Linked DNA regions of Homo sapiens: regions 1 and 3 are each linked to region 2. Evidence: fine-mapped expression QTL. A gene starts in region 2. Each other region holds a variant in brackets. All regions are shown on one strand. Distances are from middle to middle.

The links. PIP is the estimated chance that this variant, and not a neighbour inherited with it, causes the effect. A credible set is the group of variants that fine-mapping cannot tell apart.
Region 1: its variant is the best candidate, but not a certain one, in a credible set for the expression of C1orf122 in whole blood (INTERVAL, PIP 0.67).
Region 3: its variant is the best candidate, but not a certain one, in a credible set for the expression of C1orf122 in whole blood (INTERVAL, PIP 0.50).

The regions. Positions count from the first base shown.
Region 1 is chr1:37,830,504-37,840,898 of GRCh38, forward strand. MTF1 (metal regulatory transcription factor 1) reads right to left here. Exons shown (of 11, transcript NM_005955.3): 3 at 9,417-9,655; 4 at 8,122-8,253; 5 at 5,168-5,241; 6 at 4,576-4,712; 7 at 1,742-1,819. It also overlaps the pseudogene RPS2P13. Among named protein-coding and RNA genes, the nearest start is that of MTF1, 24 kb to the right of the region's middle. The variant G/A (reference allele first, on the strand shown) is at 5,301.
Region 2 is chr1:37,804,246-37,814,640 of GRCh38, forward strand. It overlaps C1orf122 (chromosome 1 open reading frame 122), which reads left to right and starts at 3,545. Exons shown (of 3, transcript NM_198446.3): 1 at 3,545-4,194; 2 at 4,286-4,487; 3 at 4,733-5,209. The coding sequence starts at 4,160. The coding sequence ends at 4,828. It overlaps YRDC (yrdC N6-threonylcarbamoyltransferase domain containing), which reads right to left and starts at 3,963. Exons shown (of 5, transcript NM_024640.4): 1 at 3,547-3,963; 2 at 2,856-2,970; 3 at 2,612-2,731; 4 at 57-199. The coding sequence starts at 3,935. MTF1 (metal regulatory transcription factor 1) reads right to left here. Exons shown (of 11, transcript NM_005955.3): 11 at 5,329-10,395. RefSeq lists silencers at 3,613-3,872, 4,053-4,602.
Region 3 is chr1:37,889,692-37,900,086 of GRCh38, forward strand. It overlaps INPP5B (inositol polyphosphate-5-phosphatase B), which reads right to left. Exons shown (of 24, transcript NM_005540.3): 8 at 1,667-1,763; 9 at 1-33. Among named protein-coding and RNA genes, the nearest start is that of MTF1, 35 kb to the left of the region's middle. The variant T/C (reference allele first, on the strand shown) is at 5,654.

The DNA of each region.
Region 1 (10,395 bases), 26 kb after region 2:
CGCATAAAAAAATAAAAATAAAAAAAATCCTTGTCTGTTAATTTTAACATTAGATGGGTCATCTTGGGGTCCATCTCCACAGATTACCTTTTCTCTTGTGGAGGGATCATGTTTTCCTGTTTCTTCACGTGTTTACTAATTTGGGATTGCTCTGAACACTACAAATGATATATTTTAGAGACTCTGGACTCTGTTACACTTCTTGGAAGTGTGTTGACTTGTTTGTCTGAATATTCCATTAACTTCATCTCCCTTGCAGTGGATGCAGCTATGATCTTTGTGTAGATCTTTAGCCTTGGCTGGGCTGCTTAGAGTCTATCCCACACATCCATGGCGCAGGGGTCAGCCAGAGATTCGGAGAGAGTTTATACACAGAACTTGGGGCTCCCCCTTAGTGACTCTTTCCTTTCCAGGCTACCTGCCTTCACTTTCCAGGTGCTGTGGCCACCCTGAACTCTGTCCTCTGGTTATTCAAGCCAGTAAGATTGAGTTTTTATAAGTTTGGCTGCCTCGTTGGGTGCCAACTGGGGCTTGCCCAAGGTGGATAAGCCATAAAACTTGCAAGCCTACCCAGTGCCTTTACCATCTTCCAAGCAATCCCTTCTTCCAAGGTTACCTCTGCTTGCTATTGGTTGCTCACCAGTGCCTTTCCACAGTTGTTTTTTATATTTTGTCTAGAATTTTTAGCTGTTTTCTGCGGGAGAGTTGGTCTCATAAGAGCAACTCTGCCACTACCAGAAGGAGAATTAGGCCTTGTCGTGCTTACATAAAAATGCAGGTTCAGATGCCACGGTCAGACAAGCTGACTCAGCAGGCTTGGGGGGAGGCCCAAGAACCTACAACTTCAGAAGTGCTGTAATTGACTCCACTAACCACTCTTTCACAGCATTCCTGAATCATTCAGTCTCTGTTCAAATACTTCCCATCATATTTATTCATTATGCACATAATCACAGAAAATCTAGCCTATGCTATATTTATTTACCAGGAAAAACGACAACAAAAAACCCAAACTCAAAATTAGTGTTAGCAATACTATAAAACTCTCATGTTCAACATGGAGGAGGCTGCATAAGCTCAGACTCAATGCATTGGTTTGTAAGTTGCATCATGGAGCCATGGGAATGGCAGTCAAATTTCCTAACAGCTTGAATCAAAGCAATCAGATTAAGATAAAGTGGGCTTGTCCTTTAGCAGATAGAGGCCTCTATATGTGTAAGAGGTTTTCTTCAAAAAGCTAATAAACCTAAAGAAGGGAAATTTTTCTCTCCCCATTGCACAGAAAAAAAATAAATAAATAAAATTAAAATGAAAAAGGAAAAGACCAAGCCAGGTCATATAGATAGGATTTGAGAAAGTCCAGAAACTAGAATTCTGGTTATGTCTTACAGTACTAGACTTTAAGTTCCTCAAGGACAAACTATACCAACATTTTTAACTACTATAAGCTCAGTACTGGCACAGTGCCTGGTCAATAAATATTTGCTAAATGAGTAAAAAAAAGAAATTTTCTGGGGCCAGGTTACCGAGTGAGTGACCTGCGTCAAAAGGAATCAGGCATCAGAGAGAACAGGCTCTAATAGAACTCTTATCAGAAGAAGAAAAAATCCTACATGGTCAGTAATTAAACACAATTAAATTTAGAAAACTTCAAAGACTGGCCTGCCTCAATTTTCCCACCAAAGGGAGTGCTTAATTCTTGCCCTTATTTTTCTAGCACTGGTATTACAGGTACACTTACCGTACTGGAATTTTCTCGCAATTCAGAATCTGTGGACAGAAGGCTCAAGTCACTTAGACAAAGTGAGTGATTTGTATCCTGTGAAAGAGAAAAAATTCTAATTGAGTAACAAAAATCAGGATTTACAGTGGCATATCATGTAACAAAACATTTGATTACAAAGTCCCTAATGTTCCACATGTCTACATGTATTATCTGAAGAAGTATAAGCCAACCAAAGCAAGGGCTAAATGAATTAATTTTTTTTAAATTATACTTTATGTTCTAGGGTACATGTGCACAATGTGCAGGTTTGTTACATTATGTATACATGTACTATGCTGGCGCGCTGCACCCATTAACTCATCATTTACATTAAGTATATCTCCTAATGCTATCCCTCCCCTGCCCCACCCCGTGAATTAGTTAATTTTTAAAAATCCTGATATTCTTACAAGAATATCTTACATTTCTTAAAAATGATTAATAAAGAGTTTTAGAGGCTGAGAGTGGTGGCTCACGCCTGTAATCCCAGCAATTTGGGAGTCTGAGGCAGGTGGGTCACAAGGTCAGGAATTCGAGACCAGCCTGGCCAACATAGTGAAACCCCATCTCTACTAAAAATACAAAAAATTAGCTAGGCGCGGTGGTGTGTGCCTGTAATCCCAGCTACTCGGGAGGCTGAGGCAGGAGAATCACTTGAACCTGGGCGGCAGAGGTTGCAGGGAGCCAAGATCACGCCACTGCACTCCAGCCTGGGCGACAAGAGTGAGACTCTGTCTCAAAAAAAAAAAAATAATAATAATAATAAAGAGTTTTAACATTATCTTATGACTAAGGCTCCAAAGTAACAAACCTATAATAATGTGAAATTAATACTATCTGTATACCTGGTCTCATCATTTACAGTGATTTCACAGGACCTCATTTGCCATTCATATAAACCTTGGAAGTATTACTCTATATCCCCATTTTTTATTCTTTTTGTAACAAATTGCCACAAACTTATATTCCCATTTTAAATATCAGAAAACTGATGCTCAGACAGTAGGAATCAAGTGCCCCCAAACACACAGCTAATTAGCAGAAGACAAATCCAGTGCTTCTGACTGAAAAGTCAATGGTCCTTCCACCACTGTGTTTCCCACATGGGCACTGAAAGGCTCCTTACTCAGAGTGGTACTGGGGATTTAGAATTCAAATTCCACTGCCCAGACTAAGTGAACTCTGGAGTCCCAGAATGCCAGTCACAATTCACACTTTAGGTGGTAGCCCTGCTTACCTCAGATGCTCCTATTCATGCACACACTCAACAAACATTCATAATGCATCTACTATGTATTAGACACCGTTCCAGACCCAGGGATACATTAATGAACAAACTAAACTCCTCCCCACGTAGAGCTTACGTTCTAGCAGAGAGGACAAAAAACAAATAAATATACAATGTGCAAGAGGATAAGTGTTATGGAGAGTAAGGGCAGTAGGGAACTCTGGGATAGGAGTTGCTCTTTTATTGGGTGGTTAGGGAAGCCCTTTTAGGTAAGTGGCATTTGAGTAGAGAGTGAAGGAAAGAGGGTATCAACCATGCACATATCTAGAGAAGATGTTCCAAGCAGAGGGTACAGCAAGTATAAAGGCCTAGGGGCAGGAGTGGACACTCCTTGGTTCAAGAAACCACAAAGAGGACCATATGGCTGAAGTGAGAGGAAGAAAAGTAGGCAGGGCACAGTGGCTCACATCTGTAATCCCGGTACTTTGGGAGGCCAAGGCAGACAGATCACTTAAGCTTAGGAGTGCAAGACCGGCCCAGGCAACATGGTGAAGACCACATCTCTACTAAAAACACAAAAAAAACCTGGGTGTGGTGGTGCATGCCTGTGGTCCCAGCTAGTTGGGAGGATCCCTGAGCCAGGGAGGTGGAGGTCACAGTGAGCAGAGATTGCACCACTACACTCCAGCCTACAGGACAGAGCAAGACCCTGTTTCAAATAAAATGAAATAAAACAAAAATAAAAGCGAGGTAGATGAGATCAGAGAAGCAACCAGGCCAGAATGTGTAGGGCCCTATAGCCTACTATAAAGACTGACTTTTACTTCAAGTGATACAGGAAGCTACTGGAGGCCAGGTGGGGTGGCTCATGCCTGTAATCCCAGCACTTTGGGAGGCTGAGACAGAGGGTGGGGGCGGCGGGGGTGGGGGAAGGGAAAGACTGCTTGGACCTTATCTCTATTAAAATAATTTTTAAAAATCTATAAAATAAAAATTTAAAAAGCTACTGTGGGTTATGAGCAGAGGACAGACATTATCTGCTTTATGGTTCAGAAAGATCACTCTGGCTGATATATGTAGGACAGTCTATTGTGGAGTGGACAGAAGAGGGGGAAAAGGTCCTAAGAAGCTCACTTAACAGGTTATTGCAATAATCCAGGCAAAAAGACAACAGTAGACTGAATGAAGTAATCAGAAGAAGTGATGGGATTCTAGATAAATTATCAAGGATGAGCTGGCAGACTTTGCTGGCGGATGTGGAGTGTGAGGGAAAAAAGAGTCAAGAATGACTATAAGATTTTTGGCCTTTGCCACTAGAAAACCAGAGCCGCCATTTACCAAGACGAGGAAGACTGCAGGAAGAACAGGTTTGGACATGTTAAGTTTGACAAGAGTAGATGATATCTGGGTGAAGACGTCGAGTAGGTGGTTAAATACACAAGTCAAGACACTGATCTTGACCCTGACTTCTTCCCGCTCACTAACAGATATACAGAGAAGACATTTTAACCTTTGATTGTGATACACAAACAACTGTTGAAGTTCTATGGTACCCAGATCAAGAGACAAAAACACTACACACCTCTGATCCATTGTGTTGTGGAAGTGCATTGTATGAGTGTCCTTTGTTATCATGACCTTTCATGTGACTTTTGAGACTGTATTGAGTGCTGAATGTTTTCTCACAGCCATTACTGGGGCAGAAGAAGGGTCTTTCACCTGCAAGAATAACAAAGTAGTGTTAATTTACCATAAAGTCATTTCACTGGATTAAGAAATCTACCTTTCCCTAATAGAGGTAAGTAAGTATTTTTAAGAGAGTTTGGGTAACAGTTGTTAAAAGTTCAATAAATTACACATTAATCATCTCAGTCCTCAAACTCAATGCTGAGCAAAGCATTGGGAATGCCTACTGCTGGGAAGTTTAAAGAGTAGATTTGTTTCTCACAGGTTGTTTTTTTTTAGAGTGTCTCTGTATTGGTTTCATCTCTTAAGGTTGAATACCTGAGGTCCGCCTCTGAAAGAAACCCAAACATTCTAGGTAAGGCTGAGCTAATTATGCTCACCTGAATATATACAGGATCTATATCTCTGTATATCCACCTAGCTCTACAGGTCTCAATGGAAAATTGATAGTTACAGGCTTGATGAAACAAAAATTGGCCTAAACTCACCAGTATGTGTACGAACGTGAGTTTTAAGGTGGTGGCTTGCTGCAAATGCTTTTCCACAGCCATCGTGATCGCACCTAAATTTGTTAAGGAAAGAGAAACAGGAGTCATTAGCTAATAGATCTTTATCCTGAAC[G/A]TCTTTTTTTTTTTTGAGATCGAGTCTCGCTCTGTCCCCAAGGCTGGAGTGCAGTGGCGCAATCTTGGCTCACTGCAAGCTCCACCTCCCGGGTTCATGCCATTCTCCTGCCTCAGCCTCCCGAGTAGCTGGGACTACAGGTGCCCACCACCACGCCCAGCTAATTTTTTGTATTTTTAGTAGAGACAAGGTTTCACCATGTTAGCCAGGATGGTCTCGATCTCCTGACCTTGTGATCCGCCCGCCTCGGCCTCCCAAGTGCTGGGATTACAGACGTGAACCACTGTGCCTGGCCTCTGAACATCTCTTATAAATAGAAACTAAAACAAATATTCAGAACACTAAGATCAGATCAATGACACTGGTTTTAGAGATGGGAATGATGAGAGGTTCTTGAAAAAGTAAGGTGGCATATCTGGGATCAGAGAGAACTGAGAGCCCAGGATAAGTATTTCTTGTCCTACAGGTAAGGTCCATGTTGAGAGCCCTGACAACAAAAGTCTTTTGATGAATTACTTAACAGACCTCTGTTGACAGTGACAGTCCATATGAAAAATCTGCCAGTGGAACATTAGGAATATCAAGAGTAAGCAAAGTGGCTCTCAAATATGTACATGGCTTGCAATGTAACATAAGAACAAAATCAATCAGAAGATAGGCTCAAGTAACTTATCTATAATCTTGTGTGTCGAGATCTACTTCATTCTCTTTTACTGTCTTGATAACCAAAGCTAAAAGGAATCTTTCCCTCCTCAGAACTCCTAAGGCTTTTCTTTACATTTCTTTTATGGCAACTCTCATTTCCAATCTTATTTTCTCTGTGGATACATCTGGTATCTGCTCTCCTAGAGTGTAAACTACTTGAGTACAGGATCCACGTAGCTCTTTCTGTAGTTCCTGCACATAGCAGACATTCCTTAATTACTTATATGAATGAATGCATTTTCTTATAAACCAAAATATTTTATTTCTTTAAATAGAAAGCTTCTCTAAAGCATTTTCATTTTTAATTACATGCAATCATCATCATGTCTAAAGTCTCATTGAATATTCAAGAAAAATGCAGTTTTAATCATCACAAAAATAAATGCATGTGACTGGATAGAAATCAGAGTCCTCTCAGCAGCCTACGGGAAGGGGGGCGGCGGGGAATAACCTAAGCTTCACAGCATCCATCTGTAGAGTAACCAATTACAATCTAACTACTCTTGCCCTTAAAGGGATCATGACTCAGGAATGCATCTGTAACTTAAAAACACAATTCCTTTTTTTTCTGAGACATGGTCTCTCTCTGTTGCCCAGGCTGGAGTGTAGTGGCATGACCATGGCTCACTACAGCCTTGACCTCCCAGGCTCAAGCAATCTTCCCACCTCAGCCTCCTAAATAGCTGGGACCACACGCATGCGCCACCACTCCCAACTAATTTTAAAATTTTCTGTAGAGTCAGGGTCTCACTTGCCCAAGCTGGTCTTGAACTCCTGGGCTCAAGTGATCCTCCCACCTCAGTCTCCCAAAGCACTGGGATTACAGACATAAGCCCAGCCCACAATTCCATTTGATTGGCATCTAAGAGTTGACTGTCTCTAACGACTTTTTATTTCTAAGTACCCTAACAAAACGAGTGGTTTAAGAAGGAACAGGTAGCATATCTAATGCCTTGAATATCCCCTGCCAAAATTCAAATACATTGTTTATTTTTTTTTTATTTTTATTTTTTTTGAGACAGAGTCTCACTCTGTCATCTAGGCTGGAGTGCAATGGCACAATCTTGGCTCACCACAACCTCCGCCTCTCTGGTTCCAGCAATTCTCCTGCCTCAGCCTCCAGAGTAGCTGGGACTATAGGCATGTGACACCACGCCTGGCTGATTTTTGTAGTTTTAGTAGAGATGTGGTCTCACCATGTTGGCCAGGCTGGTCTTAAACTCCTAACCTCACATGATCCACCTGCCTCAGCCTCCCAAATTGCTGGAATTACAGGCATGAGCCGCCATGCCCGGCCTCAAAGACATTGTTTATGGGCAGTTTTTGGCAATACATCTATCTATATTACATTTAGGGGAAATCCTTACAAACTGATTATCTCATTAAAAATGTCATATAATCATCCCAAAGCTGATTTTGAATACCTGTTGAATGCCTGGAATCATGCTATATACTATGAGCAGAGAAGAAAGTAGATAACCCAAGTCCCTCCTTCAAGTTTATAGTAAATGTATCTATTAGATATACATATGTTGACATATATGAATAAAAATGGATGCTCCTATATGTTTGTGTATACACACGAGATATTACAAAGCAATAATTTGAACAAGTAACAACTGCACCACTAAGCTAAGCATCCCTACCTCTCATTTCCTCTCTTGTCTCCTCATTCCCTCCCTCCTTGATTCTTAGGTAGGTATCCCTCCTCTGGGCTTAAGGCACTTTGGCCATCTTGCAGCCTCAGATATTATCCACAAATTTGTGGTTTTTTGTCACCAGACAAAGGTTCTTAAGAAGAAGGCCTGCTTCGGAGTATTTCTCTAGCACTAATAAAAGTACCCACCACATAACTGAGTTTCAACAAATGCTTCTTGGAAATAAATGGGAAAAAATGAGGCAGAAAGGCCATCATCCACAGAGTAAGGATGTTCTTGGACTCCATCAGCACCCCTCTAATCTGCAGTGGTTGGTTATAGCTGTCCTGGGGTGAGCTAACACTGCTAAATCAAGAGCTAGTAAAGGGAGTTTTCTTTCTTTTTTGAAAAATTCCAGAGTATATCAAGACCCCCAGCTGAAACCTGGTCAGTGACAAATAGAAAACAGTAAGACCTACCGAAATGGCTTTTCCCCTGTATGAGTTCGAATGTGCTTCCTCAGATCACTGAGTGTGGTGAAGTATTTGCTGCAGCCTTCAGATTCACAGTTAAACGTTTTCCCTGTGTGAAGCCTCTGATGTGCTTTCAGCCTGCAAAATATTCCAGAAAAATTCCCTTTGTCATAAAATTCTTTTTTTTTTTTTTTTTTTTTTCTGAGACAGAGTTTCGCTCTTGTCGCCCAGGCTGGAGTGCAATGGCGCAGTCTCGGCTCACTGCAACCTCCTCCTGCTAGGTTCAAGCGATTCTCCTGCCTCAGCCTCCCAAGTAGATGGGATTATGGGAGCCCACAACCACGCCTGGCTAATTTTTGTATTTTTAGTACAACGGGGTTTCACCAGGTTGGCCAGGCTGGTCTCGAACTCCTGACCTCAGGTGATCCGCCTGCCTCGGCCTCCCAAAGTGCTGGGATAACAGGCATGAGCCACTGCGCCTGGCCTCCCTTTGTCATAAAGTTCTACAGAGCCTCCCCATGCCAGCTTAATGTGCTTCAGGATCAAGTGCGTAAGAATTCTATACCCATAACATATTAGTATCCAACATATTTTGCCCCAAAAGAAACGCAGAGAATAGCACAGTGGTATGAGTGTGACTCTGGAGACAGACTTCCTGGGATTCAAATCCTGACCCCACATCCTGCTTGGATGGGGAAACTTAAGCTAGTTATAGAACCCCTCTGTGCTTCCATTTACTTATCAGCTATTGTGGGGACTAGCACTTGGAATCATGCCTAGCACACAGTGAGTATTTTTAAGTGTTAGCTACTGTTATTTCTATTACTTTATACTCAATACTGAAGACTATTAAGTCTCCTGATACAAACGTGAAAAAGAGAATTGGCTACTGAATAGGCCACTCCCCATTTCTCAGGATAGAAAAGTCCTTCAAGCTTAGGTAGGACAGAAGCCTTAGCACAAAGATCCTGAGCCAAGGGGAGATAGTACTCTATGCCAAGCACTGAAATGCCCAGGCCAGAATGCTGCTCCATGAGATGCAAATCTAAACAGAAATGTACTGTCGCTTCTAACCAGCCCAAGATACGTCCATCTTTAAGTAACAGGTTTCTCTAATGCATTTTTAAATTTTTTTCTTTCATTTTCTGAGATCTGGCAGAAATGAATTTTACGTAGTTGAACACAGCTGCGCTCTTTTAAAGCCCTGAAAGTGAAAACAACTCCTCTGCAAGGGGAAAGAGCTCTGCCATCACAACAAGGTCAAGGTCAGAGGCTGGCAGAGCATTGGAGACGAGACTGACCTGTACAGTGTGTTGAATGCCTTCTCACAGCCCTGCACGTCACACTCAAATGGCTTCTCCTTCGTGTGCACTCGCACGTGGATCCTGAGGCTGTAAGAGGTAAGGAAGGCTTTGCCACAGCCCTCCTGATTACAGACAAAGGTGTACTCTCCTCGGTGAGTCTTCTGGTGGGTTCGCAGGTTGCCTGCTGTGCTGTAGGTGCGGGGACAGCCCTCAAAGGTACATTGGTACCGCTTTACCTGGCAGAGAAAAGATACCTCATCAACAGGACAAAAATGCTGCCCAGGGCTTAACTCCCCCACCCAGAGCTCAGCTCCCAAGAGATGCTGTGGACAATACAACTGGGTTTTCATCATAAACACAGAAAACAGCCTCTAGCAGCAAAGTGGAAAAACCTTATTGTTGATCAAATCATACCTGGACAACACATAATGATTTATGGGGAAGAAATAAGTCTATATGTAGATGAATATTCTAAATGAACATAAGAATGTTTTCAGACTCTATATACATCTACCCACTAAAAGTACACTATACTGTTACAGCTACCTGTATTCAGATAAGATCTTAACTTTGTTTTAAGGCTTGACTAAACACCCTGACCTCCAGAACTACAACTTGATTGGAATTACCAATATTAAATTGAGTTTAAAACATCTGGAAATTTACATACTTAATCATCAAACATATTTCCCTAGATTGTTTCCACTGCATATTTTCAAGCCTACAAAATGACAACAACATATTGCAAATTTCTTGGAAGATTTGGTGATGTGATAATTCTCAAACTGCCAGCCTCTTGTTTCCTTTCACCATCAAACTTCTTGAAAGGGGAGTCAATTCTTCACCTCATGGCAGAAGGTTAAGAAAAAAAAAAAAGCTGCTTCTCCGACAAATATCAAATGGCAGATGACTCTAGTGCAGTGGAGGGCCTGGAATGGGAGGCCCAGCAGCTTCCTCAGAGACTTTGGCAGGGATA
Region 2 (10,395 bases):
TGCATCTCTCCAACCTCCCTCAAATTATTTCCCCACACCACAGGAAAGAGACTTACCAGCCTGGACGAATGATGCCAAACTTTCCGGGCACAGACAAATCAACCACAGTTGAGCCAAGGCGACACTCGGGGCTCTGGCCATCCCCAATTTGTCCCCCATCAATAACCAAGGACAACTGAGGCCAGAGATCCTGGAACTCCTGAGAAGAGGGAGAAGGAAGAGCATGGACACTATCCCTGGTGTATCCAATAATGTCAAACTGCACGCAGTCATCAAAGGCCATATAGTCTTAAAACAGAAGGCACTTTCCTCTAAGCAGAGAAAGGAGCTTCATTTAGTTAAGGTCAACTGTGCCAAAGACACTGTATTCTATGAGGTTTGGAGGCCTCCTGGGTTAGCACTCCAAGTAACACCTATCTAGGGTTTAAAGAAAATCTTGCTATGTCAAAAGGAAATTTCACACATTGCTTCAGTTAGGGAAATATAAGTACAATGAATGGAGTTCTGGGCAGAGATACGGGCTATAACTCTAGACTTTCCATCGTATCTCCGTGTGACTGCATGCAAGTTACTCTATCCAGGCCTACAAGACAAGTGGGCTGGACTAGATGATCCTATGTCCTCATTTCATTTGTTCTAATCTATGTAGCCAAGACAGGACTAGGATGATCTTTTCTTTGACCTGGCTTGCCGCAAAGATAAGAGAACAGGGTCAAGAGTCAAAAACTAGGTAAAAAGACCAGGCATGGTGGCTCACGCCTGTAATCTCAGCACTTTGGGAGGCTGGATCTCTTGAGGCCAGGAGTTTGAGACTAGCCTGGTCAACATAGTGAAACCCCATCTCTACTAAAAATACAAAAATTAGCCGGGCATGGTGGCACACGCCTGTAATCCCAGCTACTCACTCGGGAGGCTGAGGCAGGAGAACTGTTTGAACCCGGGAGATGGAGGTTGCAGTGAGCTGAGATGGTGCCACTGCACTCCAGCCTGGGCAAGAGAGTGAGACTGTCTCAAACAAAACAAAACAAAAAAAAACTAGGTAAAAATCTGGTCACTTAATGGCTGCGTAACCTGGAACAAGTGATTCCAGCTCCTTCTAGCTCTAGAACTATGCTCCTGGATCTCACTGCGACTCTGATCAGGGTAGGAAGAGTAGAACATGGTAGATTCTGCATGCCACCAGCACTCAGTCTTTGGGCTATGAGAAGGATACTCCCCCTAGAGCAGTGGACTGAATTGTTAACTGAGCTAGAGCTTCCCCAACCCCCCAAGGAAGACACTGCAGTGGCAGTTAGGCCTGGAAATCTGGGACAGGAAATCATAAATACCAGTTACTGTGTTGGACAGGTCAAATGATTGCTGACAAGGTAAAAACCTCCCCTCCCTGTGCCACATCCCGATTCTTGCTCCTGGGGTACAGCCACCAGGACCAAGTCAAACCTGCACTCTGAGAATGGGAAGGGATGCTGAACTCTCACTTTCTAAGAACCCTGAGCCCCACTCTAGGTCTGGGAATGGAAAACCCATCGAATGGAGTTCTGAGCAGGGATACGGGCTCTAACTCTGGACTTTCCATCGTATCTCTATGTGACTGCACGCAAGTTACTCTATCCAGGCTTATTAGCTGGATGTAATAAGCCCAAGGAAGGCCCAAGGCCTGATGCTGGATACTATGTGTGATACTATGTGTCTGGCCGAGTCTGGGGACACAATGTAGCTTATTACTACGTTTTACATCTTAGTAATAAGAAAAAAAACGAAATTTCTATGTGTCCTCCTTTGTTCTAATCTATGTAGCCAAGAAAGGATTAGGATGATCCTTTCTTTGATCTGGCTTGTGGCAGAGATAAGAGAACAGGGGCGAGAATCAAAAACTGGTTAAAAATCTGAGTCAGTCACTTAATGGCTGTGTGACCTGGAACAAGTGATTTAACTTTCTGGAGGCTAAACTTCATCTTTTTTTTTTTTTTTAAGAGACAGAGTCTCGCTCTAGAGCCCTGCCTGGAGTACAGTGGCACAATCTGAGCTCACTGTAACCTCTGCCTCCCAGGTTCAAGTGATTCTCCTGCCTCAGCCTCCCAAGTAGCTGGGATTACAGGCATGCGCCACCATGTCTGGCTAATCTTTGTATTTTTTATTAGAGATGGAGTTTTGCCATGTTAGCCAGGCTGGTCTCAAACTCCTGACCTCACATGATCCACCTGCTTGGGCCTCCCAAAGTGCTGGGGTCACAGGCATGAGCCACTGCCCTTGGCCTTCTTCATCTTTCTTTACAGCACTGTCGTGAAGATTTATAGCCTAACTGTGTTCTCCAGAAACTGTTATCTCCAGAAAAACAGGAAGACATTGTTCTTATAATCTTTCCTATTATTATAAAGACTGAAGAAAAGACCAATTCTCCCCCTGGCTTTTCAGACTTTGAGATAAAATCTTTCAAATTTTTTTAATTTATATTGCCCCCCACCACCTCCCTGCCAGCTGGGCAACCTTCCCACTGTTGGCCCAAGAACTCTCATGCCTGGCCATCCCAGTGTACTATCAATGCCACTGATTCACAGAAAACAGTATGTGCGCTGGTGACATTTCCAGGGGAAGGACTGGGTAAACTCACCTCGACATTCAGAGAACTGGCCTGGGAGCTGAGGTTGGCACTAGTGAGAGCAAGCGGACCCTCAAACATCTGAGCCAAGTCTTGCATAAAAGCATGATCAGGAATCCGAATGCCTACAAGCTGTAAGGCAAGGGGAAAGGGATCATGAGAAAGGTTGGAAGGGATAAGAGGGTAAGTCTTATCTGGATCCTAGTGAAAGCCAAGTGGCCTGGAGTCTGGGGACACAAGAGAAAACTTGACTCACAGGCGTAAAAGGGTTTAGGTCCTTGTTGAGCTCCTCCGAGCGTTCCATCACCAGGGTCACTGGTCCTGGCAGTAGGTCTTTCAGGAGCCCCTCAGGTACTCTCACACGGCAGTATCTGGGAAACACAGAAGAATAAATCCATTCAAAATTGAAGGGCCACTGGTGGTCCTTTCCTAGACTCTAGGCAGACGTAGAAAAGGAATCCTTCGAGTTTACAATGGGAGCCGCCTGTCTCCCTGCTTCACCTCCCTAAGAGCTTGAGCAGAAAGCAGGGCTCCAGAGGCGCACCCCTGGCTTGACGCCCATGTGCCTCTGGTCTCAGGGACTACAACAGCTGCACCGCTGTGATATCATGATAGTGGGATCAAGCTCCACGTTTTATTTTCTTCAAGGCATTCGCTATTAAATTAAGCTACTGTGTTTGTTTGCTTTTTTCCCGGGGGCCTCCCCAATTAGCACAAATACGCCAAGGGAACAGGGTCCCTGCCTTTCTCGTGTGTTGCTGCTTCCCAGCAGCATGTAGTTCAGGGCCCGGGGCACGTTAAGTCCTCGGTACATATTTCCAGTTCCGGATTCCTTGGTGAGCCTGGACAAGCCCCTCCCGCTCTCTGCGCCTCAGTCTCCCAAGCCTGTCACCGGAAACCCCTCCCGCGGTGCCGCCCCTAGCGGGGCCGGGTCGGGGCGGCCTTACCTGTAGACGTCGGCCACGCGGCCGAGGCATACGGCCAGAGGCTTGGCCTCGCTGCGACCCTTGAGGCGGTACACAGCGCGCAGAGCCGCCGAGCAGCTCGCCGCGCAGGCCAGGCCGTACAGCGTATCGGTGGGGACGGCCACCACGGCGCCGGCGCGCAGCTCGGCCACGGCGGCCCGCAGCGCCTCGGTCCAGCCGGCGCGCTCCGGGCTCGCGGCCTGCACGGCCCCGCTCCCCGGGAGCCGCAACAGCCGGGCGCCGGGGGCCGCCGGAGCGGGACTCGGCGGGCGGAAGAGGCGACCGCTCCGGGAGCCAGCAGGCCCCTCGCTCAACCCCACGCTGGCAGCCACCGCGGCCCTCATCCCCCTGCACCGACGCGCCGGAGACATCCGCCCAGGCCCGCTTCCGGGAGGAAGTGACGCTCCCAGCCAGCTTCCGGTCCAGGAGACTCGGCCCCGCCTCTGCGCCGGGCAGCTTAAAGGGACCACGACCCCCAGGAGGATTGAAGGAGACCGGTGGGGACGGGGCGGGGCGCAGCCTTGCGAAGCCCTAACGCAGCGCTGGGGAGGGGGGCGGCCGAAAGGGGGGCGGTGGTCGGGCCGCGCAAGCGGAGATGGAATGGGGCCCGGGCTCAGACTGGTCACGGGGGTGAGAGGGGGCCCGTCGGGGCGGGAGGAAGGGGCTTGGCCCCGCGCAAGCGCCGGCCCTGACCGTCTGTCTCTCGCTCTCTCCCGGGCAGGGAGGCTGCCGGCGTGGACCGCGGGAAGGCGGGGCTGGGGCTCGGCGGGAGGCCACCCCCACAGCCGCCCCGGGAGGAGCGCGCCCAGCAGCTGCTGGACGCGGTGGAGCAGCGGCAGCGGCAGCTCCTGGACACCATCGCAGCCTGCGAGGAGATGTTACGGCAGCTGGGCCGCCGGCGCCCGGAGCCGGCTGGTGGCGGGGTTAGTGCCCACCCTGGGCTGGGCTGGGGTGGGGTGGGGTCTGCCCACTGGCTAGGCTGGCCAAGCCCTAGCTTACCCTGGAGGGGGGAAGTATGTCTCCGCCGCTTTATCCCTAACCTCCTTTGATCTGGTGAGAGGTTTCGAAAAAGTTAATACTATCCAAATGCCAAATGGCCACATCCTTGTGGGGCCTAATCCAAGGCCTTGCCTCCCAGCCTCACTTTTTTCCTTTCTGTTCCAACTAGAACGTCTCAGCCAAACCTGGAGCGCCCCCCCAGCCGGCTGTCTCCGCCAGAGGCGGCTTTCCAAAGGATGCTGGCGATGGAGCTGCGGAGCCCTGACCATCCCCGAGCAGAATACCCTGACTTCTCTCCCTCCCCAGGGCCGGTGGCTGGACTCTGAACAACTCCCTTCAGTAAAGGGGCCAGTCTTCACTGGCAGTGGCTGGTACTTGGCTCTCAGCCTGGAGTGGCAGCTCTGCTAGCAGCTGGGTTCACTCCCACTTCATCCTGGCTGAAAGCAGTGCTGTGCTTTGAAATGCAGCCAATGAATACCCAGTCTGATTACCCAGATTTGGGCAGACCAGCAGTGCTCGCCAGAGTGGTCTGGCCTGCTATGGGGGATCCAGGTGGTGTTACATGTCCATTTCATGTTTTGGGGGCTTTTAGCCCCACAAAACACCTTCAGTAGAGCCTTGATTAAAAGGAAACCTGCAGACTCTCCTGGTGACCGACGTTTCCTTTCTGTCCCCTCTCCAAGACTGATGGCTGGGAAGGGGGGAGTGGTGGAAAAATGTCAACTATGGGCAGGGTTGGTAAGAAATGCCACAGATACTACCAGATTTAAATAAGCATTTAATTAGGATTTCATTAGTATTTAATATTGCTTTTTCAATTCCAAAAAGTTAAATTTTCACTTTTTAGCAGATATTTTAAAGTACAATATTAAGTTTATACAAAATGAGCAATTAAGCAAACACCATTATTTCACATTCTTCAAAAATACAAATTCATATTTATTCTTTTTTGGGTTTGGAGGTTTCTTCCTTTGGAAGTACTGAACCTGTAACGTTTTCACATCGCTCAGTGGAAGTCCGTTGTTCCCATGTTTCACACTTACTTTTACATAATCCAAATAAAACTATTTGGGATTTTAAAAGTTGTCACCAAGACCCCGGCCAATGATTAGTGTATGTCAAAAAAAAGGGCTCTTGGGGGCTCTTGCCTTTCCTGGCTAGAAGATCTGAGCCAGAAATTCAGCAAAAATCTGTTTCCAGCCACCCTCCCCAAATAGGGACTAGAAAGAGTTCACAGGAAAAGGGAACAGACACCTTGAACTCTGACCCCCACCCCCACATTCTCCAAAACACAACGAAGGATGTAGACTGTTGAGTCAAATAGCCCTTGGGAGGCCTGAGAACACAGCAGGAAAAGGGCAAGAGAAAGCCTCTGACTTGGCACACTACGAGGATAACAAGGATATTGCAAAAAACACCCCTGGGTTTTGGTGCAAAAAGGTTTTATGAAAAATTTTCCCATAAGAAAAAGTAGAAACTGCATTGAGCTGAGAAAGTGACACTACATTATCACCCAATTTTTGGCCCAACAGGCACACCACCAAAAGGGCAGTGTGTGGTTTTAAACCTCAATTCCAGTAAAAAAGCTTGTACTATGTACACATTGACATAAAGATCCAGTTTAATTTGCATTTTTCAGTGCAGACTGAGAAGCCCTCTCTTGAACAGGAGTAACAGTGAGAAATGCCCAGTGGTCGTCGGCTTCCCCAAAGGGCATCAGAAGAAATACAGGACTGTTTCCCTCTCTCCCTAAAAAACATGCAAGAGGAAACAGGCCAAAATGGCTAACCAATCAGAAATATGCTTCAGTTTTGTTGCCTCCACCCCCAAATATTAAGGAACAGACAATTTCTGATCTATGTCACAGCAGAACTATTTGCATATTGGATCTATGAAAATCCTTCTGCTTTGGCTGAAGTATATTCTAAAACTTGTCTATTCTATAGCCTGAGAATTGAAGATAAAATGGGGGAGGTGGAGTAAAGGAAGAAAGTTGATAATGATTCATGGGATGTAATGTTTGTTTATAGGATTTAATGAAGGCTGGAGGCCTTTTTGCTTAAGGAACCAACACAGGTAGTATGGGGAGCAGTATGGAAATGGCTCATGTTGCCCCCTGCCACCCATGCCTCCCCAAACATATTTCTGATTGGTGGTGTAAGACAATTGTAAACTCTTGAGAAATATTGTTGCAGTTCCACAAATCAATGGTTTCAATCACTCTGGAAAAGTCTTTAAGGACAATGGATGTGATTACAAATATAAAAGTCTAGAAGGTGCCAGGTTTCTACCTAGGAACAATCTGTTCCTTCCTTTCAGGCATCATTTTGTAATGGTGAAGAGGGAAAAGATGGCGAGAGACCAAGAAGTGATGAAAAAGGGCCTCAACAGTCAGCAGAAAACAGGACCCACAGCAGTTCTTCAGAGAGCCTGAGGGGGCGCCCTGGGGCACACAGGGAAGGCTTGCATAGATTGAGCGGTTGCTGAGAATGCATAATAGTGTTTCCCTATGGACAGTCTCACAGCACAGGGCTGATTGAGCGGAAAAACGCTGCCAGGCCAGGGCCACATGGGACAACGACCATCAAGCTACACATATTGCACCAAGGTAAGTGCTTTTCTTTTCACACCTCAATTTAACTTTTTATTCTGAGCAAAAAATAAAACTTTGTGGAAAGTATATATATGTATATATACACACAAAAGAAATTGCAGCAATCGGGTTAAAGATAAAATAACCTAAAGTGCTTTTTTATTTTATTATTTCTTTAATATACCAATATGAGGTTCTGCAAACTTGTCCCTCTGGACACATTCAGCATTATACAAAGTCTCTCAGGAAAACCCACCCACCCTCCAATATCCCCATCAGTCCACAGCCTTGACCCTGAAAATAAAACTCTCCGATCTACCAACTATCCCAGAGGTGAAGAAGAGAAGCCCCTTGCCTTTTACTCAGAGAGATCTTCACATCTTAAGGCCCCTCCTGGGCTTTGTACCATGATCTCCTTCTAAACGGAGGTGGAATTCAATAAATGACACCACTTCTGTCACCAAACTGGTGGTGCCCCCATGAGACTGGCCAGACCCTGCCAGCAAAGACTGGGCCACCTTCCCTCAATGCCCAACCTACCTGCCTGGGAAGGGCCAAGTTCACTAAGGCAGTTTGGTGGTGCCAGCCAGTTTCCTTACCACCTCCTAAGTCCATGAACCCCAATCCCTGGTGCTAAGCACCCTTTGAAGCGGTTGTCTAATTGGAGATGTTAGTAGGAGCTAGAAGATAACGTACAGGGTGAAAATGGTTAAGTTTACTATGGGAGGGGAAAAAGGCTTGATTTTTACCTGCTAGAATTCTACAAATCCTCCCTAACCTCACCCTAGGTTCATTTCCCAAGTTTGGGAAACCACACTCACCATGAAGGTTCTTTCTGGCTCCAGCTTAGCTAGGGGCCCTCTCTTCTCCAAGGTCCTCGGCACTAGAGACCAGGCTTATGGAAGGACAGGTAGGAAAAGAGAACTGGAAAAGGAGGGAAAGAAAGACTGCCTATCCTGGGAAATAAACCTGATCTTCACAACCACTCACTGGCATTTTAAGCACATTCCTGATTTTTCAAAAGCTGATTGGATCTGATAGTCTCTCTTGTAATCTAGAGTCACCCTCAAAAGGCAGATACTTCAGCTTCTTCAACTGGAAAAATCTGTCAGCCTAAACACTGTTTAAGATGCTGCTTCGTCACCCCCGATCTTTGAGAGTGAAAAGGCCACTGACCTGGGTAGGGCCCAACATGAGCACAGCCCTGGCTAACCAAGAAGAGTCGCTATTTAAACTGTGGGTGCTTCAGATGTCCTTCCCTGGGCTCCTATTTCCCACTTCCGCCCCAGGGAACCCAAATCCCAGGTGACCACAGGATGGGGATATGGGAAGGTCATTACTGCCCTCTGATACAAGCTTACTTTGGGGTCCCATCACTACTCTCTCAGAAGTTGTAAACAGCAAGGGCCCTACCTCAAAACTTCCCATGGGTGCGAGGCCCAGAGACAGCCAAGGACAACTCATGCTCAGCAGTTGGTTTTCCAGGAGGACTGGAAACCTCCTGCCTTATCAACTTCTGCTGAGGTCAATGGTCAACAGAAGCCACAATCCTTTTGGGGAAGGGAGTGCAGAAGGTCAAAAAGAAGTCAATTCCCTAGACCAGGCATGGTGGCTCACACCTGTAATCCCAGCACTTTGGGAGACTGAGGCGGGAGGATCACCTGACGTTGGGAGTTCGAGACCAGCCTGACCAACATGGAGAAACCCCGTCTCTACTAAAAATACAAAATTAGCCAGGCGTGGTGGCGCATGCCTGTAATCCCAGCTACTCGGGAGGCTGAGGCAGAATTGCTTGAACCTGGGAAGTGGAGGTTGCGGTGAGCCAAGATTGCGCCACTGCACTCCAGCCAGGGCAACAAAAGCAAAACTCTGTCTCAAAAAAAAAAAGAAGTCAATTATTCTGGCTAGGGTCCTGGAATGAGAAATTGGCTGCTTGTAGTTAAGATTTCTTACTGCCATTTCTCCTCATGGCAGTAACAACATTCACCACCACTGCCCTCTTTGTCTGTCCCTGAACATCCTTGCTAAAGGCAGGGAGGGCCTCTGGCTCCAAGGTAAATTATCTGTTCTCAATAATATCTTGGCTGGCCCTGAGCAATGGCTCAGAGAACAGGAGAGTGACCAATGCAGATCCCTTTACATTAGGGAATGAAAATGCAAGGCAAAATTATGGCTGCTTCCTGCCTGACACTGTTGGCTTAGAAGAGCAGCCTTGTTTGTGGAACACCACTCCTTGCTCAGGGCAAGGAAAGGGCTCTTGGGAGGCAGAGGCCTATTCTGCACCTCAGGCCATGCCTGGCCTCTGAGCTCGGTGAGTTTGGTCAGCACTCATGACTATGTTAATATAGCCTGTTGAGGGAAACTTTTCATGCTAGTATGGATTGTATCTTTTATTTTAAGAGGCAATGACTTGGAGCCAAAGGCAGACATATGGATATAATTCTATAACACACACACACAATTTTTTCCTATAACACAACTTAATGAAACATTCCAAATGAGATAACTTATTGCAACATTTCAGGCTTTTTGGTGGAAAGGGAATTTTTTTGTTTTGCTATACCCTGAGTAGAAGATCATCGTTTTGTGTTTCTTTTTTTTTTTTTTTTAAATAAATCACATGACTAAGCTGAGCAAGTCACATCCTTGTTTGCACTGTATGAGGCTGTATGCAAAATCCAGAGGGGGGCAGAGATGGAGGGGGCAACCCAAAGCCTGGCTGGAACCTGGAACCAGGACACCTGGCCTGCCAATTACATGCCACCTCATATGAATTCCCTTAAATCTGCACCTTCTTCTGATAAGCAAAATGCAGCCCTTCTGCTCTGAGGAAGAAAATACCATTAAAAAGAAGGCAGACCACCAAACAGCACTGGCCATAAGCCACAAGTTCACTCTAGGACAAAACAGCGATGTTCCCCAAGGAAAATTCACTGCGATCTGCAAGCCCTGGCAACCAACCGAGAGAAAGAACCAGGAAGGCAAGGACAGTGATCATGTTGCTAGAGCCTGCTTTGCACACACGTCATCAACAGACAGCAGTCAACAAGCTGCCTAGGGCCTCTGCAGAGCCAGATCAACCCCACAGCCTGTGAGCCAGGCCTTAAGCTGCCTATTTGTGCTGAAGCGGGCTGCAGAACGACCCGTGTTATCCACCCTGAGCACCACCAACACTAAGCACAAATGACAACACCATCTCACCTGAACCCTGTCCAACTCACAGCTGCCTCACTGGCCTT
Region 3 (10,395 bases), 85 kb after region 2:
ATGTCAGTAATTTCGGACTTGGATTTATTCTGTCTGGAAAAACAGAAGTATTTTTTTCATATGTGGATGAGTCCCCATGGCAAAATGAATGAATACAAAGCTAAAAGTTCCCCTATACAAGCATCTAAGTCACAGAAGACTAAAGGAGGCCAAAGTAAAATTTATCTACTAAAACAACACTATTTCTATGTGGAATTAAGTAAATTTATATTTTGTTGATTGTATAATATGTTGGTCTGGAGATTTTCCTAATAATAGAGTCACAGAATCTCAGACCAGAGGGGCATCTTAAAGATAATCTAATTCCCTCAGTTCTAAATGAGAAAAATGAAACCCAGTGTCATTAACGCCTCACCCACATGAATGGTGGCAGAGTATGGGATTCAATCATGTAATTGACAAGCCGGGCATGGTGACTCATGCCTGTAATCCCAGCACTTTGGAAGGCCAAGGGAGGCAACTCACTTGAGGCCAGGAGTTCGAGATCAGCCTGGCCAACATGGCAAAATCCCATCTCTACCAAAAATACAAAAATGAGCTGGGTGTGGTGGCACATGCCTATAATCCCAGCTCCTCGGGAGGCTGAGACACAAGAACCACTTGAACCTGGGAGACGGAGGCTGCAGTGACTGGGTGACAAAGTGAGACTCTGTCTCAAAAGAAAAAAAAAGAAAAAAACTGTAAAACCCTCTAGGTCCTTTAACTTGATCATTCTATTCTGTACATCTATTCCACAGGAATAATCCAAAATAAAAAGAAAGGCAATGAGAATTTATATTTTATTATTATTTGCATTGTACTGTATTTATAGTCGTAACTAAAATACTGATACAAGTAAGTGTTTTATCTTGACCAGACAGATTCTGGAGATATTCAGTAGGGGGCACTGGAGTACAGACTTCAGATATTTATATAATAACACACCTCAGGGGCGAGTCAGGAAAGAGTAAATAAAACAGGAAAAAAAGTCACTTCAGAGTCAGGAAACACCTAAAAGAATGAAAGAGTGAAATCAAACGTTTCTAATCTACATTTTCAAGGGAGGGCTAGACTGCCAGTTCCAAATCCTAGATTGACCACTTGATAATTCTGGGACCTTGGGTGAGTTATATAACTTCTCATTACCTGAGTTTCCCTAACTGTAAAACAGAAAAAAGTACTTACCTCTTAGGCTAAAATAAGATAGTCCAAATAAGAGCAGGGTGCCTGGCAGTAAGTGCAAATAAATGTCAGGTATTATTAAGAACATTTCCAGCCAGGCACGGTGGCTCATGCCTGTAATCCCAGCACTTTGGGAAGCCAAGATGGGAGGATCAGATGAGGTCACAAGTTCGAGACCAGCCTGACCAACATGGAGAAAACCCATCTCTATTAAAAATACAAAATTAGCCAGGTGTGGTGGCACATTCCTGTAATCCCAGCTACTCAAGAAAGCTGAGGCAGGAGAATCACTTGAACCCAGGAGGTGGAGGTTGCGGTGAGCCGAGATCATGCCACTGAACTCCAGCCTGGGCAGTAAGAGCGAAACTCTGTCTCAAAAAAAAAAAAAAAGGACACTTCCTAGGCCAGCTACCCTGGGACAACTTACATTATACCCAAAATGGTCTCAGTACTGTGAGGAGAACCTCAGTCCTACAAGGGACAAGTGAAGGGAGAGTTGCATTACCTTGGTTGCAAGCTTTCTGGTTTATCTTGACCCCTGGAGCTTTGGTCCATAGGCACTCCCTTCCCATTTGGTCTCAAACCATCAAAGTTAGAACCACCTAAAGGGAAGGAGAAGAAATTAAAATATACATACATAGGCTGGACATGGTGGCTCATGCCTGTAATCCCAGCACTTTGGGAGGCCAAGGTAGGTGGATCACCTGAGGTCGGGAGTTCGAGACCAGCCTGACCAACATGGAGAAACCCCGTCTCTACTAAAAATACAAAATTAGCCAGGCATGGTGGTGCATGCCTGTAATCCCAATTACTCGGGAGGCTGAGGCAGGAGAATCGCTTGAACCCGGGAGGCGGAGGTTGCAGTGAGCCAAGATCGTGCCGTTGCACTCCAGCCTGGGCAACAAGAGCAAAACTCCATCTCAAAAACAAACAAACAAACAAATAAATAAATAAATGAAACATACATATGCTTTAATATACAGACAACAGCTTCGGAAATTGTAGTCTAGGAATTATTGGTAGTCCACATATTGCTTCAAAGGGCCTATGCTGATGTCTGGGTGAAGTCCCACAGACCATACACAGAAGGAGAAAAAAGTATCTCATCCAGGTATCTTTACTGCTGAAAGTGTAACTATTCCAGCTAGTCTAACTCCCTTTTCTTGGATAAAGGGTACATTAAGGAAAGAATAAAACCATGAAATCTGAAAACCTGAGTTTTATCACCTGCTTTATTATTTATTACCTCCTGACTTTGGAAAAGCCATCTAACCTCTCTCAATCTCAGTAATTTGACCTGTCCTGCCTTCTTCACAGGTTTAATGTAGGGTCAACTGAGTTGACATATGAGTAGGCACTTTAAAAGCAATACAACATATTATAAAACATAACATAGCGACTTCCACTCTGAAGAGGAGAAAGGCAAGGGTCAGAGATTAAAACTGGAAATAGTCTAAGAGCTCTAGAAAATGAGAAGCGCTTGTCATTGTTGACAAATTGCCTTGAAAACCAAAGAGCCCAAGGGCCCAACCCAGAAATATTTTGGGAAAGTCGTTAAACCAAGATAAACCTGGAAAGGAAAATTAATCTGCCAATAGCTTCTCTGCTCTTTAAAAGCCAGATCTCTTGTCAACAGGGAACAACATGAAGCGGTCACAGAGAGATGTGATTTTAAAACCCAAGTTATGGGAAGGAGCTCTGGAGGAATGAAACACCACTGAAGAATTTTGCTGCGAAGACTATTACTAAACATGGATTTCTCAACCATGCATTCACATGAACCAGAAAAAAACTTTTGAAAAAAGAAAGCATAATCATTTGAACATGAAAATAATTACACCTCAATGCCTCCAATCAATCACCAAATGCTATAGACTGATTATTTATACCCCTGCCCAAAGTCATATGTTGAAATCCTAACCCCCAAGATAACATACTAGGAGTTGGGGCCTTTAGGTGTGAGGTGTTTAGGTCACAAGGGTGGAGCCCTCATGATTGGGATTAGTGCCCTTATAAGGGTTGAGGAGACTAGAGTTCCCCTTTTGCTATGTGAGAACACAGTGAAAAAAGACAGCTGCCACTAAGCCAGAAAGCAGGCCCTCACCAGACATTGAATCTGCCAGCACCTTGATCTTGGACTTCTCAGCCTCCAAAACTGTGAAAAATAAATCTCTGATCTCTGCTTTTGTTTTGTGGTGTTTTTCCTGTATGTTTTTTTATTATTTTCTTTTTCTTTTTTTTTTTTTTTTTTTTTTTTTGGGACAGGGTCTCCAGGCTGGAGTACAGCAGCCTGATCATGGTTCACTGTAGCCTTGACCTCCAGGGCTCATGTGATCCTCCCACCTCAGGCTCTCTGGTAGCTGGGATTAACAGGCACAAGCCACCATGCCCAGCTAACTTTTTGTATTTTTTTGTAGAGATGGAGTTTTGCCATGTTTCCCAGGCTGGTCTCGAACTCTTGAGCTCAAATGATCCTCCTGCCTTAGCCTCTCAAAGTGCTGGGATTACAGGTGTGAGCCATCACACCCAGCCAAATCTCTGTTGCTTATAAACCACTCAGTCTATGGTATTTTGTTATAACAGCCTACAGACTAAGGCTAAAAACTAAGACACCAAAGCCTTTCAATTTTGCTTCCTAAATGCCTCTCAAACCAATATATTCCTATCCCCAGTGTCACTGTGCTAGTCTAGGTTACCAACATCTCCCCTGAATGACTATAAAAGCCTCAACTAGTTTCCCTGCCTCTTTTCTCACCCCACCCTCTCCAACCCAGTTTCTACACTGTGGCCAGAGGATTTTTTAAAAAGTAAATCGGATCACATCACTTTAAATCTTTTAAAGGCTTCATACTGGATAAACCCAAATCCATACATACAATTGCCAAGGCTCTTCCCAGTCTGGATCCTACCCACTGCTCTAGCCCCAATACTCACCACAGTCCTTCAGCCCCTACCTCCTTGATGCCATGCTCTAAGCATATTAAGGTTACTGCAGCTATGCAAAGATCCCGTCAGAAAGCAACTTCCCTCTTCTTCATTCTGCTTTATAAGGCTAACTCCTACCCATCCTGTGCCAGGGGTCAGTAAACTTTTTCTGTAAAGGGCCACAGAGTAAATATCCTAGGCTTTGCAGGTCATACAGTCTCTTGCAACTGTTCAACTCTGCTGCTATAGTGCAAAAGCAGCTGTGAGTGTGGCTGCATTCTAACGAAATGTTATTTAAAGATGCTCAAATTTGAATATCATACAATTTTCACATATCACAAAGCATTATTCTCTTGAATCTTTTCAAACATTTAAAAATGCAAAAAATCATTCTTAGCTCATGAGCTGTACCAAAGCAGATGGCAGGCTGGATTTGGCCTATAGGCTGCACTTCACCAACTCCTGCTATAGGCCATATCTTAGAGGTCATTTCCTCCAAGAAGACTTCTCTAACCTCTCCTAGGCTGGTTAGATGCCCTGACATTGGTGTTTCCATAGCTCCCTGTACTCCCCATCACAGTCTTGATTGCTGTGTACTGTAGGTGTTTTTTCTTCCCAGTTAGACTGTAAGCTTACTGAGGACTAGACTTTGTCTGATTTATGCATCACTGTATCCCCATCATTCAGCATACCACCCAGCACATTATAGGCAGTACAGTCACACAATTCAATATTAAATGCGCAATGAACCTGAATCCCCATGCGTCTATGTTTTTCTTTTTTCTTTTTTTTTTTTTTTTTTGAGACAGGGTCTCGCTCTGTTGCCCAGGCTGGAGTGCAGTGGCGCAAGCTTGGCTCTTTGCAACCTCTGCCTCCCGGGTTCAAGCTATTCTCCTGCCTCAGCCTCCCGAGTAGCTGGGATTAGAGACACGCAACACCACACTCAAGTAATTTTTGTATTTTTGGTAGAGACGGGTTTTGCCATGTTGGCCAGGCTGGTCTCAAACTCCTGACGTCAGGTCTCCCAGTGCTGGGATTACGGGCATGAGCCACTATACCCGGCCCCTGTGTGCCTTATATGTTTAAATACGTAACATCCAAGTTCAAGTCTGTAGCATTCTTTTGGAATGTTTCAGGTAATCTTCCCATTGTCTCCAAAATATAACAAAAATAAGAAAGGAGAACTAGAATGGGTTATGTCTAGAGTTCTACTAACCCATAGTTACTTAATAATTATTTCTAGAAATGCAATCCCCAGCTGGATTCTACTTCTCTTTCTTTACTCTCACTGAGCTATAATAAAGCTTAGAGAGCTAAGGTATTTGAGTTAGTAATGGTGTATTGGGGACATCTGTTAGAATGACTGAAATTTAAAAAAAAGAAAACCAGCTGACAATTCCAATTGCTGACAAGGATGCAGAGGAGCCATGACTCTCATCCATTGATAGTAGGCATGGAAAATCATACAGACACTTTGGAAGACAGCTTGGCAGTTTCTTAAAAAGTTAAACAGTCTTACCATATGTTCTACCCATGACACTCCTAGATATTTACTGATCTGAAAGTA[T/C]GCTGGGTGCACCATGGCTTGTGCCTATAGTCCCAGCTATTCGGGAGGCTGAGGCAGGAGGACTGCTTGAGCCCAGGAGTTTGAGATCAGCTTGGACAATAGAGACCCCTATCTCTTAAAAAATAATAAAATCCCTCTCCCTCTCCCCCTCCCCCTCCCTCTCTCTCTCCCCACAGTCTCCCTCTCCCTCTCTTTCCACGGTCTCCCTCTGATGCCGAGCCGAAGCTGGACGGTACTGCTGCCATCTCGGCTCACTGCAACCTCCCTGCCTGATTCTCCTGCCTCAGCTTGCCGAGTGCCTGCGATTGCAGGCGCGCGCCGCCACGCCTGACTGGTTTTCGTATTTTTTTGGTGGAGACGGGGATTCGCTGTGTTGGCCGGGCTGGTCTCCAGCTCCTAACCGCGAGTGATCCGCCAGCCTCGGCCTCCTGAGGTGCCGGGATTGCAGACGGAGTCTCGTTCACTCAGTGCTCAATGGTGCCCAGGCTGGAGTGCAGTGGCGTGATCTCGGCTCGCTACAACCTCCACCTCCCAGCAGCCTGCCTTGGCCTCCCAAAGTGCTGAGATTGCAGCCTCTGCCCGGCCACCACCCCGTCTGGGAAGTGAGGAGCGTCTCCGCCTGGCCGCCCATCGTCTGGGATGTGAGGAGCCCCTCTGCCTGGCTGCCCAGTCTGGAAAGTGAGGAGCGTCTCTGCCCGGCCGCCATCCCATCTAGGAAGTGAGGAGCGCCTCTTCCCGGCCGCCATCACATCTGGGAAGTGAGGAGCGTCTCTGCCCGGCCGCCCATCGTCTGAGATGTGGGGAGCACCTCTGCCCTGCCGCCCCGTCCGGGATGTGAGGAGCGTCTCTGCCCGGCCGCCCCGTCTGAGAAGTGAGGAGACCCTCTGCCTGGCAACCGCCCCGTCTGAGAAGTGAGGAGCCCCTCCGCCCGGCAGCCGCCCCGTCTGAGAAGTGAGGAGACCCTCTGCCTGGCAACCGCCCCGTCTGAGAAGTGAGGAGCCCCTCCGCCCGGCAGCCGCCCCGTCTGAGAAGTGAGGAGCGTCTCCGCCCGGCAGCCACCTCGTCCGGGAGGGAGGTGGGGGGGTCAGCCCCCCGCCCGGCCAGCTGCCCCGTCCGGGAGGGAGGTGGGGGGATCAGCCCCCCGCCCGGCCAGCCGCCCCGTCCGGCAGGTGAGGGGCGCCTCTGCCCGGCCGCCCCTACTGGGAACTGAGGAGCCCCTCTGCCCGGCCAGCCGCTCCGTCCGGGAAGGAGGTGGGGGGGTCAGCCCCCCGCCCGGCCAGCCGCCCCGTCCGGGAGGTGAGGGGCGCCTCTGCCCGGCCGCCCCTACTGGGAAGTGAGGAGCCCCTCTGCCCGGCCAGCCGCCCCGTCCGGGAGGGAGGTGGGGGAGTCAGCCCCCCGCCCGGCCAGCCGCCCCGTCCCGGAGGGAGGGAGGTGGGGGGGTCAGCCCCCTGCCCGGCCAGCCGCCCTGTCCGGGAGGTGAGGGGCGCCTCTGCCTAGCCGCCCCTACGGGGAAGTGAGGAGCCCCTCTGCCCGGCCAGCCGCCCCATCCGGGAAGTGAGGGGCGCTCTGCCCAGCCGCCCCTACTGGGAAGTGAGGAGCCACTCTGCCCGGCCAGCCGCCCCGTCCGGGAGGGAGGTGGGGGGGTCAGCCCCCCGCCCGGCCAGCCGCCCCGTCCGGGAGGTGAGGGGCACCTCTGCCCGGCTGCCCCTACTGGGAAGTGAGGAGCCCCTCTGCCCGGCCAGCCGCCCCGTCCAGGAGGGAGGTCGGGGGGGTCAGACCCCCGTCCGGCCAGCCGCCCTGTCCGGGAGGTGAGGGGCGCCTCTGCCTGGCCGCGCCTACTGGGAAGTGAGGAGCCCCTCTGCCCGGCCACCACCCCGTCTGGGAGGTGTACCCAACAGCTCATTGAGAACGGGCCATGATGACAATGGCGGTTTTGTGGAATAGAAAGGGGGGGAAGGTGGGGAAAAGATTGAGAAATCGGATGGTTGCCGTGTCTGTGTAGAAAGAGGTAGACATGGGAGACTTTTCATTTTGTTCTGTACTAAGAAAAATTCTTCTGCCTTGGGATCCTGTTGATCGGTGACCTTACCCCCAACCCTGTGCTCTCTGAAACATGCGCTGTATCCACTCAGGGTTGAATGGATTAAGGGCGGTGCAAGATGTGCTTTGTTAAACAGATGCTTGAAGGCAGCATGCTCCTTAAGAGTCATCACCACTCCCTAATCTCAAGTACCCAGGGACACAAACACTGCGGAAGGCCGAAGGGTCCTCTGCCTAGGAAAACCAGAGACCTTTGTTCACTTGTTTATCTGCTGACCTTCCCTCCACTATTGTCCTGTGACCCTGCCAAATCCCCCTCTGCGAGAAACACCCAAGAATGATCAATTAAAAATAATGATAATAATAATAATAAAATAAAATTAAATAAAAATAAAAATAAAATAAGATAAAAGTAGTGGCACATGCCCATAGTCCTAGCTACTTGGGAGGCTGGGGAGGGATGGTTACTTGAGCCCAGGAGTTCAAGGCTGCAGTGAGGTGTGATCTTGTCACTGCACTCCAGCCTGGGTGACAGAGGGAGATCCCACCTCTAAAAAATATGGCAAGAAAAATAATTTTTGTACACATAAAAACCTGCACAGAAAAGTTTATAGCAGCGTTAAAATCACCAAAAACTGGAAGCAACCAAGATATATTTCAACAGATGAATAAACTGTGATACATCCATATAATAAAATATTAAGCAATTAGAAAAATTAGTTATCAAGCCATGAAAATACATGAATGAATCTTAAATGCATATTGCTGAGTGAAGGAAGTCCATCTGAAAAGGCTATTTATTATATGATTCCAATTACACAACATTCTGGATAAGACAAAACTATAGAGACGGTAAACAGATCAATGGTTGCCAGGGGTTTTGGGGGTGAGGGTGGGGTCAAATAAATGAAGAACAGGGGACTTTTTAGGACAGCAAAACTATACTCAAAAGAAACTATAATGGTGATACATGGTAGTATCTATAGCTTTCAAAACCCACAGATTTTTACAACACAAAGAATGAAACTGGGCTGGGCACGGTGGCGCACGCCTGTAATCCCAGCACTTTGGGAGGCCGAGGCGGGTGGATCACGAGGTCAGGAAATCGAGACTATCCTGACTAACACGGTGAAACCCCATCTCTACTAAAAATACAAATATTTAGCCGGGAGCGGTGGCAGGCACCTGTAGTCCCAGCTACTCGGGAGGCTGAGGCAGGAGAATGGTGTGAACCCAGGAGGTGGAGCTTGCAGTGAGCCGAGATCGCGCCACTGCACTCTGGCCTGGGCGAAAGGTGAGACTCTGTCTCAAAAAAAAAAAAAGAATGAACCTTAATGTATACAAAATTTTAAAAAATCATTTAGGACGTCAGGAGATTCTGGAGTAAAATGCAGAAAATGACAAAAGTGTCTAACCTATATCACAAAGGTATGAAACCACCTCATTGAAGGGAGTAGGGGAAAAAGTGTTTACCTAAGTAACTTTAGAAATGAGTGGTATCTATAAGACTAAAGGCACCAGGAGCAGTGGCTCACGTCTGTAATCCCAGTACTCTGGAAGGCTGAGGCAGGCGGATCCCCTGAGGTCGGGAGGTCGAGACTAACCTGACCAACATGGAGAAACCCCATCTCTACCAAAAATGCAAAATTAGCCAGGTGTGGTGGCGCATGCCTGTAATCCCAGCTACTTGGGAGGCTGAGGCAAGAGAATCGCTTGAACCCGAGAGGCGGAGGTTGCAGTGAGCCGAGATCGCGCCATTGCACTCCAGCCTGGGCAACAAGAGTGAAACTGTCAAAAAAAAAAAAAAAAAGACTAAAGGCAAGTGGAACTGTACAGAAGCATTGTACTCTAGTTGATAATGGTGTTCCATGGGGGTCCTGATTAACAATTCTGAGGCCAGACGCAGTGGCTCACACCTGTAATCCCAACACCACTTTGGGAGGCCGAGGTGGGCAAATCACCTGAGGTTGGGAGTTCGAGACCAGCCTGACCAACATGGAGAAACCCCGTCTCTACTTAAAATACAAAATAGCCAGCCGTGGTAGCACATGCCTGTAATCCCAGCTACTCAGGAAGGTGAGGCAAGAAAATCGCTTGAACCTGGGAGGCAGAGGTTGCGGTGAGCCGAGATCGCACCATTGCTCTCCAGCCTGGGCAACAAGAGCGAAACTCTGCCTCAAAATAATAATAATAATAATTTTCTCAAGGTACCTCTAGGCCAAAAGGAATCCCTAACAGTTCTACTTAAGTAGTTAGGGCCAAATAAGTATTTAAGTCCTAACAACTTAGTAGCAATTTGAAAAAATAATACACATAAAAAGATTTCCATTTCATCTTTTTTTTTTTTTTTTATGGAGTCTTGCTCTGTCGCCCAGGCTGAAGTGCAGCGGCACGATCTCGGCTCACTGAAGCTTCGCCTGCCGGGTTCACGCCATTCTCCTGCCTCAGCCTCCCGAGTATCCGGGACTACAGGAGTCCGCCACCACACCCAGCTAATTTCTTTGTATTTTTAGTAGAGACGGGGTTTCACCGTGTTAGCCGGGATGATCTCGGTCTCCTGACTTCATGATCCGCCCGCCTTGGCCTCCCAGAGTGCTAGGATTACAGGCGTGAGCCACTGTGCCCGGCTGAACTACGTTCCACTGGAAGTTTGTCTGGTGTTCCCACAGATCTCCATGTTTACCTTGAATTTTTTTTTTTTT